Linked DNA regions of Homo sapiens: region 2 is linked to region 1. Evidence: fine-mapped expression QTL. Tissue or cell type: lung. Region 1 holds a variant in brackets; the other region holds the start of a gene. All regions are shown on one strand. Distances are between the middles of the regions.

Region 1 (8,108 bases):
CCCTGTACCTGGGGAAGGGCTGTTAAGGTACAGCTCCTGCTCAGGCCTTTTATACCAGGGACGCCTCATTTCATGTATGGTTCTAGAGGGTTCCTGCTGGCCCCTTCTTCTGCCATCCCAGTCTTTCATCCTTGACAGTGCTTCTTCCTCTGTGCTTCCATCAGTCGTGGCCACAGACCTCAGTGTCCTCTATGTGTCACCTCTCACCTAGCTGTTTTGGCTGGGCCCACAGTCCCACCTTGCCTGTTAGGAACCTGACTTTCTTGTTGGCTTCCTTTTCAAATTGTTAATTCAACATTCTTTTCTCAAATGAACAATCCTTTTGTAAGGCGAATAATTATCCCACTTCTCCTGAACGACGTTTTGCAAGATTTAAAAATAATACTTCATTTGTTGAATGTGGAGGGATACCTGTTTCATAGGATTCCTTTTTAGTGGCAGGATTGAGGACCGGGATGACATTGGCTTCTAGACAAACTGGTCTGCCTGCTCTCCAGGCTGTGATTGTTCAGTTGGCATCATGGTAGAATCTCTGTAATAAAGAATTGCATTAAAGGAAGTTTGTATTTCTTATGAAGAATCCCATCAAATAATTCACTAAGGATTTTGGAAAGAGAAACCAAATTCTTTAAAAAGCAGGGAGAGGGCAAAGGAGAAGGAAAAAGAACGTTAAACAGTTCATTTATACTAATGGCCCTTGTGTTATTGTGGCAAAATTTCTTCTAAATAAAAGTCAGAGAGGAAAAACAAGCTTTGTTTGGGAGGTGTACTGTCTGTTCTCTGCCTTGTTTTTCTGCTCTGAAGTATAGTGTGCTGTCTTGACGTAGGTATGTAACTGCTATGAATATTGATGGCAGCAAAAGCTTTTTTTTTTCTCTCTGGCCTAGTAAATAAAGCAGCAAGGATAAAAAGGGATGAATTGTAAAATCAGTGTGCTGTTTTTAGCTTCTCTGGTTCCCTTAGAACTCTTAAGTCTCAAACATATTGACAATCTGCCTTTGGTGGTCAGGGTCTGATGTGAGCACTGTGGGTTGGCATTTTCAGGGATTTTTGCCTCTGGTTGAAGTAACAGAGTTCCTTTTTCTTTGAGCTTTCAGAGTTAATGTTATGGCTTCATTGAGGCCTTCCTGTATCTTTCCCTCTATCCAGTGGCAATGCTGGTCCCTGCTCCTCAGAATACCGCAGTGGCCTGAGTGTGTGATCGTTCCTCCAGCAGCCACGCCTCGCATGCCTCCCGAGCAAGCACTCCTCTGGGGGATATGGCAGGGAATGGGGCAACGGGGAATCTGGACAGTAAGCAAGGAAGGGCATCCTCGTAGCTCTGAGCGTGGCATTTCATGTAGCTGTATGAAGGGCATGGGGGAAGAAGGCATGGGGGCATGGGATGAGCCTGGCTAAGAACAGGACTGGTCTGAAGTCTAGAGGGGGCATGAGTATAGAGGTTGGAGATGAGCTAGGCTTTCTAAATTAAATTATAAACACACTGATGCTGGCTAACTCTCAAAACACACACACACACACACACACACACACACACAATTCGTTCACTAGACTGTTATAATGGTGTTCTGAGGAGCAAAGGGAGCTTTGGAGGGCAAGTGTTTAGAAATGACAGGAACCACAACAGCCCTGTCCTTGGAAGGAAGCCCTGTTATATGACCAGTGAAGAGTGGAGAATGGGGGCAAAGACTGGGATGCATGGCCATGGCTGCATGGTGGTCAAGAGGGAGGATACCTGTGGCACGACAAAGGGATGTTCTGCCTGGCACGGCCGGTGACAGAGGGGAAGCGATTCTGGCAGCAGACAGCCGGAGCCCAGGGGCAGCACAGGCAAGGCTTCCATTTAAATGCACAAGGGTGTTGGGGATACTGCAAGCAAACATTTAATAGGTGACGGTTCCTCAAAGGGTCAGGCTTATGGGAATCATCCTAAAATTTGTGTTTTTAAAAATGTTTCTGAATATAAAGTGTTCTCTTCAGAAACATAAAATTTATTTTCAAATACACATTTGCCTATTGCATAAAAATATATAATAGTGATAATATATAGCAAAGTGCTTTTTTTCCCCCTGGAATCCGTTGTGAAAAGGCAGGGGTGGCCTGATGGGAGGGCTGAAGATAGAGAATCGCTCTTGTCAGTTACTACTTTTGTGACTCTTGAGAAATTCTCTGTGTGTACATTCAAAACTTCCCCCTCCACACACCTCCCCCCCACACCAACAGACTAAATGACAGGTACCATAGTGGGGACATTTTTCTGGCTCCTGGTACAGTGCCTGTCATTTAGAAGTGGTGTTCACGTGTTTCCTGAGCCTATTTTATTTTGACCTCTTGCCCTAGGCATTTTAATGAGTGAATTTCATGACCTCCATTTCTCTAAGGTATTGGTAACTTTTCGGGTCCCACTGATATTAGTATAGGACTCTATAGTTCATATTGGAAAGTTACAGTTGCTGATGATACTTTGTTATTTAAGTAGCTTCATGCCGAGGAATGCCTCTTGCAAAGTTAATTACACACATCTCTGTTGGTCCATGTTTCTATTGAAACTGAAGCTGTATAAAGAAAACATTTGTAAAAGAGGAAGGAGTCAAAGTTTTTAGACTTGCTGATTGGTATGTTTTCCACAGCTCATGGAGTTGCATGGGTTGGAACTGGAAAGGTTCTACGAGTCATTTAGCCCGTGAGCAGCACCTGTGAGGTCTGTGGCAGTCAGATGGGCATGGCTGCTGGGATGGATACTAGAGGAAAGGTCAGAGGCTCTGCCTAGGTTTCCTGGGAAAGTGCATGATGACCTGTCACAAGTTCAGCCGGGAGAGGCGGCATGCCAATAAGCAGGCAGGGTGTTTGCCATCCTGAATTTACTTCCCTTATTGTGTGGATGCAAAAACTTATATCCAGAGGAGGAGAAGGACTTGTCCAAGGTTACCTTGCTACTCAGTGACAAAGCTGACTGTGACTTCGAACTCAGACATAAACCCAAGAGGAAGAGAGGGTCAAAACAGATGCATCTTCATTTTTTCCAGAGGATGAATTTCTTCTGTTCAAAGACACCATTGGAATCTTTGTTGTACCCTTGTGCTTTTCTGGGCCTGATTTGGCAACCTCAGGAGGAAAGCATGCTGCGTTTTGCAAATGTGTGCAAATAACAAACATGCCTGTTATGTCCTAGGCAGACTCATCACACGCATTGGGGCAGTTGGCAAAATGCAGTCATGCAGCCTGGAACGAAAAGTGTTGCACACGTAGTTGCTTATGAGAAATTCAGTGTTAGAATGTAAATGCCTTCCTGGCCCAGGGGCAGTGTAATTGTTCCATTTCTCATAATGAAACTTTGTTTGGAGGGAAATGCTTATATGTCTAAGGTGTTGATTCTAATCTCTGTTCCTTTTTCTGTCTCCTCTTCCTCCCCTGCCCCTGCTTTTTTGGTATGTTTCTTTGTTTTTCTTCACAGGAAAAAGTAGAATATGCCTTCCTGATTATTTTTACAGTCGAGACATTTTTGAAGATTATAGCGTATGGATTATTGCTACATCCTAATGCTTATGTTAGGAATGGATGGAATTTACTGGATTTTGTTATAGTAATAGTAGGGTAAGTCTCTTTTACTTTGGGGAAATGTTGATTTGGAAAATGGGAGGTGGAGGTTGGGGG[G/T]GGTGGTGGTAACAAAACAGTCTTTTTAGGGAATGTGGTTGCTCTTTTATGCCAGCTGTTGCACCAGAACCTCTCAGGAGTTCTTTTAAGGCTGGTGATGCTGCTGTCAGTCTCTGGGCAGATACTAGTTTGAAATTCTCTCGTTGTTACTCCCGTTTTTAGTAACATGTTATAGAAGGGAGTCTGAACTCCTAATATGAGAGGCTTTACCTAACACGGTCTTGGATCTCCAGAAATAGACCAACCCTGTTGGTGATTAGAGTCAAATGAGTAGAGCTTTTAATACTTAGTGCCAATGTTAAGTTAAAAAAAGTAAAAAGTAATAAAACCTTCATAGCAGTAAGGTACTCTGCTATTTAACATCCCTTGAGCAAAGCTATTAATTTTCTTTTTTTTTTTTTTTTTTTTTTGCTGACTTGCGGGAGAAACTCTGGCATACTACTGTTCCATTTTAAATAATGAAACAAGTGTCTGGATAATGTCACGTATCTGGCATAAAATGAAATAAGCTAGAAAATGCAGAGAAGCAGGTGTTCCACCAAAATCCTGTTGCAGGAAGAAGACATCAGTAGTTTTAGTGAAAGGAGAATGTTAAAATAAAAAATAGTGGCCTGTGTTATTTTAGTCCTTCCACACCTGGAAATGTTGCCAGGAAGAGAAAAATGAATCCATGTTACAGGAATGCTGGGTCTTTGGACCAAATACCCATGTAGGAAGATAAGATATATCCTTTTTCCCAGTCTTAGTTATGCTAGCTGTAAAGTGAGTTGCTCCTCAAATTATGTTTCTGTAAATAGCCTCTCTGTTTTCATCTTCATGACTTCAGTGAACTGCCTTTTGCAGTTGAGCAAGGTGATTTTTCTTGTGGATTATCCTTTTATCATGAATCTTTTGCCTTTTCATTGGAGACTAATTCTGCTGGGTATTGGGAGAGTGGAATTGGTTGTGGGCCTTCCTAGGTCCTTTCAACCTAGGAAGTTAATATGAGATCCTAATTGCCCAGTGGGACAATTAGACTTGTGGGAAACAAGTTAGCTTTTCAAACCGCCCCCGCCGCCAATACATTGTCATTTAAGGCATCATTGCAAAAGAAGTGTACCAAAATGAACAGGTAGCAGATATGTGCCGTACTTTCCTGTATTTGGTGGACTCTGTCGAGGAATGGCAAGCCGAAGCCTTGCAGGTATGTTGGTTCTGGGATAATCTGGCTGTGCCTCTTCTGCCACTGGACTTTTTGTTCAGCTAGGAATGGAGATGCTTAGCCCCATTTCTTGCGTCACCGTGCTATGATCACCTCATATTTCTGCCTGGAGACATTTTTCACACTACAGCACAGCACAAGGACAGGGAACCAAGTGGAGCATGGTGGTCTTATTGAGTTAAGGAGACAGACAAGAGTTTGGGGAGGCAGAATAGGGGAGGGGAGGGAGCTATTTAGAGAAAGAGCTTCATAAATATGCCTTAGAGTACTCTTCAGTTTTGGCTGAGGGCTAAGCTACGCCTACACGGAGTTGTGAGTCCATGAGGCCAGGAAAGACCACTACTAGGGAAAAGAGAAAGATCAGGGAGCTGTAAAATGAATAATAACCAGGGCTCACAAAGGACTGGAAGGCATTCAAATTCTGACTAATTAGGGTGGAAAGACCTCATTGAACACCCTGGACTGTCAGTAGAGACCCCACAGGGCCACTGGTAGTAGTGCTAAACTGGCTCTAGAGCAGGGGCTGGCAAACTGTGGCCAATGGGCTAAGTCCTAGCCCATCTAGCCTGCCACCTATTTTTATAAATAAAGTTTTATTGTAACATGGCCACACTCATTTGTTTACATAGTTCAGTTTGAGTAGTTTAGGTCTACAAAACCTAAAATATTTAAATATTTACTATTTGGCCTTTTACAGAAAAAGTTTGCCAATTGCTGCTCTAGAGTACAGAGACTACCTGAAATCCTTGCTTACAATGTTTGAAAAGAAGTCTGAAAAGAAGCAAACTAGGCTGGGCATGGTGGCTCATGCCTATAATCCCAGCACTTTGGGAGGCCGAGGTGGGTGGATCACCTGAGGTCGGGAGTTCAAGACCAGCATGGCCAACATGGTGAAACCCCCTGTCTACTAAAAATGCAAATATTATCTGGGTGTGGTGGCGCATGCCTGTAATCCCGGCTACATGGGAGGCTGAGGCAAGAGAATCGCTTGAACCTGGGAGGCAGGGGTTGCAGTGAGCCAAAACCATGCCACTGCACTCCAACCTGGGTGACAGAGTGAGACTCCATTTCAAAAAAAAAAGCAAACTGATATGCTAACTGAACTGCCTGCCAGAACATAACTCAACATTCTTTAAAGGAAGACAACAAAATCCAGACACTGAACATATGAAGAAATGTGACCCATAACCAGGAGGAAACTCCGTCAGTAGAAACAGATCCTGAAATGACAGAGATGATGGAATTAGAGAAGGACTTCACAAAGCTTTAAAAACTGCTGTTATAAATTTATGGACTTAAAGGGATACCTGATTATAGTAAGGAAAGATGGGACAATATAAAAAAAAACAAATGGAACTTTAAGAGATGAAAAATATATCCAAAATGAAAAATTCTCTGGTTTGGCTTAACCTCAGCTTAAACACTATAGAAGGAAAAAATATCAGGGAATTTGAACATATGGCAATAACATGAAGAATAATGATTGAGGAGAAAATGAATACTGCCTCTGTGGCCTGTGGGGGAATAACAAGTGGTCTAACATATATATATATTTGGAGCCTCAGAAGGAGAGGAGAGAAAGAGGAGACAGAAAAAAAATTTTGAAGAAACAGCTCCAGATTTTCCAAATGTGATGAAAAATGAAACTCACAAGAAGCTCAGCAAAGCCTGAGCAAAATAAACATGAAAAAAGCCACATCAAGCACATCATAATTGTAATCAAATTGTTAAAAACCAAAGATAAGGAGAAAACCTTAAAACAGAGAAAAGAAAATCTCAGACTATTTGTCAACAACTATGCAAGCCAGAAGACAATAGAGAGACATCTTTAAAGTACTGGGGAAAAATGTCAACCTAGGATTCTCACTCAGTAAAATATCTTTCAGAGTTAAAGTCAAAATCAAAATTTTTTCAGACATTCTAGAGTTTCAGAATTCATGACTAATAGACCTGTACCTCAATCAGTGTTAAAGACAGTTCCTCAGGGCTGAAGGAAAATGACACGAGGTAGAAAAGTGGATCTACACAGAAAGAAATGAAGAGTACCAGAAAGTGGCTCTACACAAAAAAGAATGAAGAGTACCAGAAAGGGTAAATACGTGGGTACATATACAGATATTTCTCCCCTCGTTTAAAAATTTCTTTAAAGGTAATTATTTAAAGCAAAAATAATAACAGTGTATTGTGGTGTCTATAGCTTCTATAGAAATAAAGTACATGACAATGGTAGCATGAAGAATAGGAACAGGGAAATAGCCATATGGTCTTGTGATGTACTTATACAGTAGTTGGAATGATTAAATATTATCTGAAGATAGACTGTGATACCTTTAAGATGTATATTGTAAACCCTAGAGTATGGATTGGTGAGCTACAACCTGTAGACCAAATCTAGTTTGAGCCTTTTTTTCCCCCACCATTGACAAAGTATTTTATTTACTGCCTACTTTGGCAAATAAAGCTTCATTGTAATTCAGCCACATTCAGTCATGCCTATGGCTATTTGGTATTATAATGGCAAAGTTGGGTAGTTGTGACAAACCCTATGGCCTGCAGATTCTAAAATATTTACTATTCGGCACTTTATAGAAAATGTTTACTGACACTTGCCTTAGAGAAGCCACTAAAAAAGAAAATCCCAGGTCTATCTAATAAGCCTATTGTAGAGATTAAATGGAATTTAAAAAAAACCCCTAAATCCAAAACAGGCAAGGAAGAAGAAAAAAGGAACAAAGGACAGGACAAATAGAAAACAAACGGCAAGTTGCTAGATTTAAACCTAGGTAAATCCTTATTAAAATCATTATCATGAAGAAAGGATAATGGCCTTTCTTTGTGTCCATGTGTTCTCATCATTTAGCTCCTACTTATAAGTGAGAACGTGTGGTATTTGGTTTTTTGTTCCTGCGTTAGTTTGCTAAGGATAATGGCCTCCAGCTCCATCCACGTGCCCACAAAAGAAATGATCTTGTCCTTTTTTATGACTGCATAGTATTCCTTGGTGTATGTGTATCACATTTTCTTTATCCAATCTGTATTGATGGGCATGTAGGTTGATTCCATGTCTTTGCTATTGTGAATAGTGCCACAGTGAACATTAACATGCATGTGTCTTTATGGTAGAATGGTTTATTTTTCTCTGGGTGTGTACCCAGTAATGGGATTTCTGGGTCAAGTGGTAGTTCTGTTGTTAGCTCTTTGAGGAATTGATACACTGCTTTCCACAATGGATGAACTAGTTCACACTCCCACC
Region 2 (8,103 bases), 300 kb before region 1:
CCCAGGCTGGAGTGCAGTGGCACGACCTCGGCTCACTGCAAGCTCCGCCTCCTGGGTTCACGATATTCTCCTGCCTCAGCCTCTCAAGTAGCTGGGACTACAGGTGCCTGCCACCATGCCCAGCTAATTTTTTGTATTTTTAGTAGAGACAGGGTTTCACCGTGTTAGCCAGGATGGTCTTGATCTCCTGACCTCGTGATCCGCCCACCTCGGCCTCCCAAAGTGCTGGGATTACAGGCGTGAGCCACTGCACCCGGCCGATCCCTTCCTTTTTAAAAGCAGAAAGATGAATAGCAGGGAACAAAGAAAGTGTCTAAGAAAAAAGAGCTTGGTGTACAAATATCAAAGAATTACACTTAAAAGAAGAAAAAAATGAGTGCATTTAGACGAGATCTCAAAGCTTTGTATCAAAATTTAGAAGAGTATTTGACAAATTCTTTTAAATTGGCATCAATGGAGAAAGGCAATCCTTATGAAGCAACTCAATACAAAAAAAAAAGGGAAAAGACCAGATATCAGTAATAACTCCTGCTGACTCCCTAAGCTTTAGAAAACAAGGGAAGGAACCTGCCCTTGTAAGAGTTAAGACCTTAGAGGAATCCAGGAAAACAAGTACCCCATGACTATCATATACTGTCAGTTGTCTTTAGGCCCCAAAAGCTGCCTAACAAAAAAGTTGCAATTTGCAAACCAATCTTAAAGATAATGAATTTTTGAATAAGTCAAAAATAAAAAATACGCCATCATGAATAATCCAAGCTTTCTAAAGAACTCTCAAATAAGACACTGTACATAATCCAGAACTTCTGTGGGTTGGGAAAGAGGACAGAACCAGTCATAAAAGACAACCACTCATGTAGTAATGAAAGAACAGAGGGATCGACCTCTCAATAACATTATTTTACAGAGCCAGTCTATGTATTGTCTTTTCCCCAAATATATATCTTTCTTTTTCTTTCTAATATGGGGGTAGGAAGAGAGACGCAGGCATCCATTTTAGACTCAATCATTATTATTTTGAAATTGCTTTGCTAGGCTGGTAATATAAATTCTAGTTCAGTTTATTCTGAATCACAGAAAGGCTCAGAGAAAAGAAAGAACCTGGTTAAGATTTCACAGCTAGGGAAAGATGAAAACTTGAAGGGTACTAGCAGGACGGTTCCAAAGACAAATGTACAAGAGAATTGAACCGTTTCACATTGTTCACCACTAGACTGTTAAAAACAAATATACATATTTTAAAAACTTACCTTCGATATACGAATAAGGTCCCTTCTATATCAGTCTTCTCCTATGAAAGACAATGACTCAATTAGTTTTTTTTCCCCATAATCAGACCCCAAATAGTCCCCATGGAGAAGTAATGCTTCACGTTTAAGATCAACTTGTTTCATTTCATCTATTATAAAATTAACCACTTTTGAACAGGTAAAGTCTCCCTCTCATTCCACAAATTGTGGTTACCATTTCTAATGTATCCTTTCAGTGCATAAGCATATGCAATATTTAATCCAGCAACATATCTGTATCTGCAGTATTTTTCTTTTTTAATTAGTAAAGGAGAAAATCATAGAATAAACCTTCACTTTTTATAGCTAAAATATTTTAGCCAGATTTCTTAACTTTAAAGCTAAGGTCCTGTATACTGCAATTTCTTCTCTTTTAAGTTTATCCAAGTTAATTTTAAAAAAGGAAAGGAATGAAACTTTCTTATAGGATACTTTGTTTCATCACTAGGGAGTTTTCGTACATTTTGACAACTAGCAAATTTTGTGGTTAAGAATTACTACCAAACAAAATCAGCTTGTTATTTTTAGAACTTGAAGAATCTTGAATACTGAAAGTATACCCTGCCTCAGTGTAATTATTGGAGGCCTTTACCATAGTTCATTTTCTGTGACAAGAGTGTATTTAGGTTTTAAACACAGTTCAGTGTTTTTTAAAAAATAAATAAGCTTATTAGTCTGCAATTTACAGCCTACAATGGACCTAAATATTTTACTGTAATCAACGCATTATTAACATTTTAAATGTTAGTCATATATTGAATGTGTTGGGATTAAAAAATTTAGAAAATTGATCATCTCGATTTCTTCCAGAAGTACTACCCTAGCTTAAATATCATTATTTTCCTTCCTAAGGATTCAGAGGCTTTTTCTTACCTTTAAAATGTTAGGTTATTACTATAAGAAACTGGTAATCAACTGTCTTACAGTAAAAGAAAATTTGCCCACCAAAAAACATCATGCAAAGTTACAACTCACTGTAAAATAATAAAGAGGGAAAAGATTTTTGTCATGCTCTATGTGCCAGGATCCAAATAAACAGTAGCAGCTTATTTTTCAATTCAGGTTATTATAGCTTGTATTTCATATTTAAAACAGAACTCCACAATGTAAAATTTTAAAATATTGAAAGCCTTTGTGAAAAACTAGGAAAACTCTAGCCCCAAGTCTTCACCATTTGTCGGCAATCCATATTTCAAAATTTATATATAGGCCAAGAAAAGAAAAAAGATTCATAAAATTTCAAACTAAGGCAATGTCTAAAATAGCTACATTTAAAAAACAATCTACAATTTTATTCCTTGTGGCTTCCCATATCTCCTTCTCTTCCAGGAGGCAAAGATAAACAACGTGATTATAAAAACTCTTCATCTGAATTAACTGTTCATAAATGCCAAATGATTTTCGATAAATTACTGATAAATATAATCTATGCAACTGTATTATAGGGTAAACGACATACTACGGTCATCTTCCAGAGTTCTGTCAGTTTAAGGATTTCGTATCTTATTGAAATGTGAACTCCAGTCATTGGTGAATTCAATCCAACAAGCATTTACGTATTACTTTCTAAGTGTAAAGCCTGTAGCTGAATGAGTTAATTAGGAAGGGTCAATTACAAGAAAGTGGGAAATTATGCTTTTTAAACAACTAACAAAGCTTCAAGCAGGGGCTAACAAGAATCAGTGAACACACTGAATGTGACTTTTCGGACCCTCCCCAGTGCACGAAAGCCAGAAAGTACTGAGTCCGAGGGGAGCATTCAGAGATGACATCACCAGCATCATAGATGGAACAAAACACATTTACAGGGTCTCTCTTGTTTGTACAAAGGTCTTCGGGGATCCAGTGAACACGGAAGCCCTTTTCCTAAGTGCCTTGGAATCTTTTCCGAAACTCTGTGTAGTTCGATTAAAGCCGGACCCACCCACCCCCTCCTTCCAAGAATCGAAACTAATTGGATTTTAAACTTTAAACCCAAATGACCTCTGCGACAGGGGCTCTCATTTACGTTTGCCAGGGGGAGAGGAGGAGTGTTTATTTTATAGATAATGTACATATAATTTATCTAATAATCCGCAAAGCCTCAAACACAAGCTTTCAGGCACCCTTTTGACCCCACCGGTCTTATAACTCCCAATGTATCTGCAAAGAAGGCAGGTCGCCCACGTCCCCAGACCCGACGCCAAGGGACTGATCCTGCTCCAATCCTCCCCTCCACTGGCTTTTCCTTGGGATGTCTCGAGCCACTTCTCTCACTCCTATCCCCCAATCCCAAGCGGACCCGACACCCCTCAGGCTCTGGCTAGGCTCTTGGCCAGACCCTGGCCTCGTCTCCACCGCCCTGGCCTCTTAGTGTGCCCCCCCACCCCACAGTAACCCGCGCGGCCCCTTTAAGAGACGGCAGCGGCCGGGTGGCCGTCCTCAGGGCCAGGCGGCACTCACCCACTGGTTGGCCTTGGGGCAGAAGGTGTACAGAGCGACCTGGCCCGTGAGGTCTGCGATGCTGGTGATATAGGGGTCGTGTTGCTTCAGGGCCGCTAGGCTCATCTCCTGCCCAGCTCGACTCAGCGCCTCCATCTTGAATCCCAGAGCCTAGCCCCTCTGGTGGGGGCGGAGTCGCGGACAGGAAAGTGCCATCGAGGCAAAATTCCCCCATCTGCGTCAGTCCCCTCAACTTCCGCCTCTACGCGGGCCTCGCGGCAGGGCGGTACGTCAGCCATTCTGGTCCGCCGCGCGCACGCTCCGGGCGCCGGGTTCCGGCGTTGTCAGGGTCCGCGGCCCTACGATGTGGGCGGTGTCCAAGGCTGCGTAGTGGAGCTTGCAGGCTGGAGCTCCGGCGCTTCCTTTCCCTGAGCTAAAACGACTGGGTCCTGGGATCTGGCCTCTAGCTCGCCTGCCGAGCTCTTTCCAGGCAAAGGTTGGAGACCGCCGAAGTGCCGGCCTCGCGGTGCGCTGTCTGGCAGGGCCCGGGGCCACAGAAGGAAAACATGTCTGTGGAATGTGGAAATGCGGGACTCTACCGGGCCCGTTTAGAGAGCACAGAAAAACATGGGGGAAAGGGAGAGGCGAGAAGCCCAGAAAATTACCCTAGGTCTCAGATATGGATGTGTCGACCTAAAAGGAAGAAGACTCTGGGGCAAAATAAATGCAAGCAGAGAGTTTATTTGGGCCAAGCTTGAGGATTGCACCCCAGGAGCATAGATTCAAGTTGCCTTGAATATATACACTGATTAGCAGAAGGTACAAGTGGATTTTTTTTCTTTTTTTTTGAGACGGAGTTTCACTCTTGTCGCCCAGGCTGAAGTGCAGTGGCGCGATCTCGACTCACTGCAACCTCCGCCTCCAAGGTTCAAGCGATTCTCCTGTCTCAGCGTCCCCAGTAGCTGGGATTACATGGGCGCGCCACCATGCCCTGATAATTTTTGTGTTTATAGTAGAGACGGGGTTTCGCCATGTTGGCCAGGCTAGTCTCGAACTCCTGACCTCAGGCGATCCACCCGCCTCTGCCTCCCAAAGTGCTGAGATTACAGGCTTGAGCCACCGCGCCCGGCCCTTTTCTTTTTTTCTTTTTGAAACGGAGTCTCGCTCTTTTGCCCAGGCAGGAGTGCCGTGGCACAATCTCAAGCTCACTGCAACCTCTGCCTCCAGGGTTCAAGCGATTCTCCTGCCTCAGCCTCCCAATTAGGTGGGATTACAGGCGCCCGCCACCACACCTGGCTAATTTTTTCTTTTTCTTTTTCTTTTTTTTGAAATGGAGTTTCGCTCTGTCGCCCAGACTGGAGTGCCGTGGCGCGATCTCAGCTCACTGCAACTTCTGCCTCCTGGGTTCAAGCGATTCTCCTGCGTCAGCCTCCAGAGTAGCCGGGATTACGGGCGCCCGCCACCACGCCCAGCTAATTTTTGTATTTTTTTTAGTAGTGACGAGGTTTCACCACATTGGCCAGGCTGGTTTTGAACTCCTGACCTCAGGTGATCTGCCCTCCTTGGCCTCCCAAAGTGCTGGGATTACAGGCGTGAGCCACTGCGTCTGACCCACATAAATATTTTTGTCCAGCCCTGGGAAGAGTCCATGAAGGGTTTAATTTGTCTTGCTTCATTTAAAGCATTAAGCAGATCACTCATTTCATTGGTAAGTGTCTGTTGAGCATTTTAAAGCGTTTGAAAGAGTTAGGCACTAGCTAACAAGTAAAACAAATCATGGAGACTATAGGGAGTTCTATCCCCGCCAGACTTCTTAAAAAGCAACATTTCTTTCGTTAAAAAGGTCATGGAGGCTGGGCGTGGTGGCTCATGCCTGTAATCCCAGCACTTTGGGAGGCTAAGGTGGGAAGACCGCCTGAGGTCAGGAGTTTGAGACCAGCCTGGACAATATGGTGAAACCCCGTCTCTACTAAAAATACAAAAATTAGCCGGGCGTGGTGGCGCACGCCTATAGTCCCAGCTGCTTGGGAGGCTGAGACAGGAGAATCACTTGAACCCGGGAGGCGGAGGTTGCAGTGAGCCAAGGTGGTGCCATTGCACTCCAGCCTGGGCGACAGAGCAAGACTCAAAAAAAAAAAAAAAAAAAGGGTATGGTAGCTAGATGTGTGGGCTCACGCCTGTAATCCTAACACTCTGGAAGGCCGAGGAAGGTGGACCACTTGAGGTCAGGAGTTGGAGACCAGCCTGGCCAACATGGTGAAACCCCATCTATACTAAAAATACAAAAATTAGCTGGGCGTGGTGGCACATGCCTGTAATCTCAGCTACTCAAGAGGCTGAGGCATGAGAATAGCTTGAACCCAGGAGACGGAGGTTGCAGTGACACAAGATTGCACCACTACACTCCAGAGCTTGGGCAACAGAGGGAGAAATTCCATCCAAAAAAAAAAAGGGGGGGGCATGGTGGCATGTAACTGTAGTCCCAGCTATTTGGTAGGCTGAGGTGGGGATCACTTGAGGTCAGGAGTTCAAGACCAGCCTGAGCAACATAGCAAGACTACGTCTGGAAAGAAAAAAAAATTGACATCCCCAACAGAATTGAAAATTTTTGTAAGATAAAACCATATTTTCAAGAAAATAACACTAAATATTTGTATTGCCTATGATTTTATATCCCAGGACCACTGTTTTTTGTCATTGTGTTGATGAGAAGAGTCAAACTCTGTAAAATAGTTGAAGAAATTTATTCTGATCCAACTATGAGTGACCATAGCCCTTGACATAGCTCTCAGGAGATCCTGAGAACATGTGCCCAAGGTGATTGGGGCACAGCTTGGTTTTATACATTTTTGGGAGAGATGAGACATCAAATACATTTCAGGTGTATATTGGTTCTGTCCAGAAAGGTGAAACAACTTGAATTGTGTGCCAGCACACCTGGCTAATTAAAACTTTTTTTTTTTTTTTTTTTTTTTTTTTTTAGAAATGGGGTCTGGCTCTATTGCCCAGGCTGGTCTCAAACTCCTGGCCTCAACCAATCCTCTGGCCTGGGTCTCCCAAAGTGTCCCTGATAAAATGAGTTTTTTCCCCACTGTGTATCAGTCACAAACAAAGAATATCCCATTGAAAAAGGCAATCAGGTTTTATTCATTTGCCAGGGAATGGAGAAGGTGAGCTCTTCCTCTGAAAGCATCTTTTCTTGAAGAATAAAAGGCAAGGGGTTTATTGCCTTTATTCCTATGGGGCAGGAAAGGAATGTTAGTATGTGCAGGGTGGGACTCCAGACACGCAGGCCCAATTCATAAACATGCATCTTCATATATCATATGTACACAAAATGGCAGAGATTTTCTTTTAGGGAAGGGAAATTAGCATTATAATGATATGTTCATGATCTAAAGGCACCCAGGGTTTGCCAGTTCCCATTTGCGCTGGTTTTATGGTGTCTTATCTTCCTCTGGCATCTGGTCAGGGGTCAAGAAGCTCTGGCGCCATCTGGTTTCTTTAAGCAGCAGTGTCTATAGATAAAGGGACCAAAGAAAAACAATAAGAAAAAGGAACTTTCCCAGTTATTTTGTCAGGGCTGTCCTGGTTAACAAAAATGCTGAGATTACAGGCTTGAGCCACCGTGCCCAGCCCCCCTGTTTGTTAATGTAAAGAGAAATTTAGATTCTTTGCAGAATCATGTAAACATGTACAAATGTGGACAAAGACACAGATATCATTCATTCACTCTTAAGTCAGTATTTATTGAACTCCTAATTGTGAGCTGGTGGCCCCTTGGGAGCATCTCACTCTGTTTAAGACATTCCTGGCTCTGAGGGAAAAAAGAAAGTAGGACAGTGCAAGGAAACAGGGATGATGCTAGAGACATTTCTCTTTGAAATCCAGAGGACAGAGCCGCTAACTTAACTGGCTGGGAAAGTCTAGGAGGGCTTCCTGAAGGAGATGATGTTCAAATTGGTGTTCTAGGGATGACTGGGAGTTCAGGGGAAAAAAGTAAGGCCTCTGGTTCATTTCACAGCTCAGTGGTGAGGTAGAGAAGATGTCGTCACCCTCATTTGACAGATGATTTAATTGAGACCTGTGGGGAGAATTCACTGGCTCAAAATTCCACACTAGTCACAGAGGATCCAGTATTAGAATCTAGGGACTCCTATCTTCTACCCTGGGATCCTTTCCTACACGCCCCAGATGCCTTTCTTCCTTCCAGTGGCTGGAGGTAAGAGCCCTATTCCTCTCTACTTACCTTCAATCTGTTTTAAAAATCCGCACCCTAATTTTTAAAAATCTGCACTTTAATGTTTAAAAAACATACATTCATCTGGTACAAAATTCAAAAGGCACACCTGAAACTTAGTTTTTTTTCTTACATAGATTTCCTAAAATAATC

The links. PIP is the estimated chance that this variant, and not a neighbour inherited with it, causes the effect.
Region 2: DCP1A starts here. The variant in region 1 is fine-mapped to the expression of DCP1A in lung (TOPMed, PIP above 0.99).

The regions. Positions count from the first base shown.
Region 1 is chr3:53,647,325-53,655,432 of GRCh38, forward strand. CACNA1D (calcium voltage-gated channel subunit alpha1 D) reads left to right here. Exons shown (of 48, transcript NM_001128840.3): 4 at 3,455-3,594. Among named protein-coding and RNA genes, the nearest start is that of CACNA1D, 160 kb to the left of the region's middle. The variant G/T (reference allele first, on the strand shown) is at 3,655.
Region 2 is chr3:53,343,652-53,351,754 of GRCh38, forward strand. DCP1A (decapping mRNA 1A) reads right to left here and starts at 3,892. Exons shown (of 10, transcript NM_018403.7): 1 at 3,732-3,892; 2 at 1,251-1,291. The coding sequence starts at 3,866. It overlaps LOC105377094 (a long non-coding RNA gene), which reads right to left. Exons shown (of 3, transcript XR_940847.3): 3 at 7,119-7,228. RefSeq lists enhancers at 2,900-3,490, 3,491-4,081, 3,617-4,386.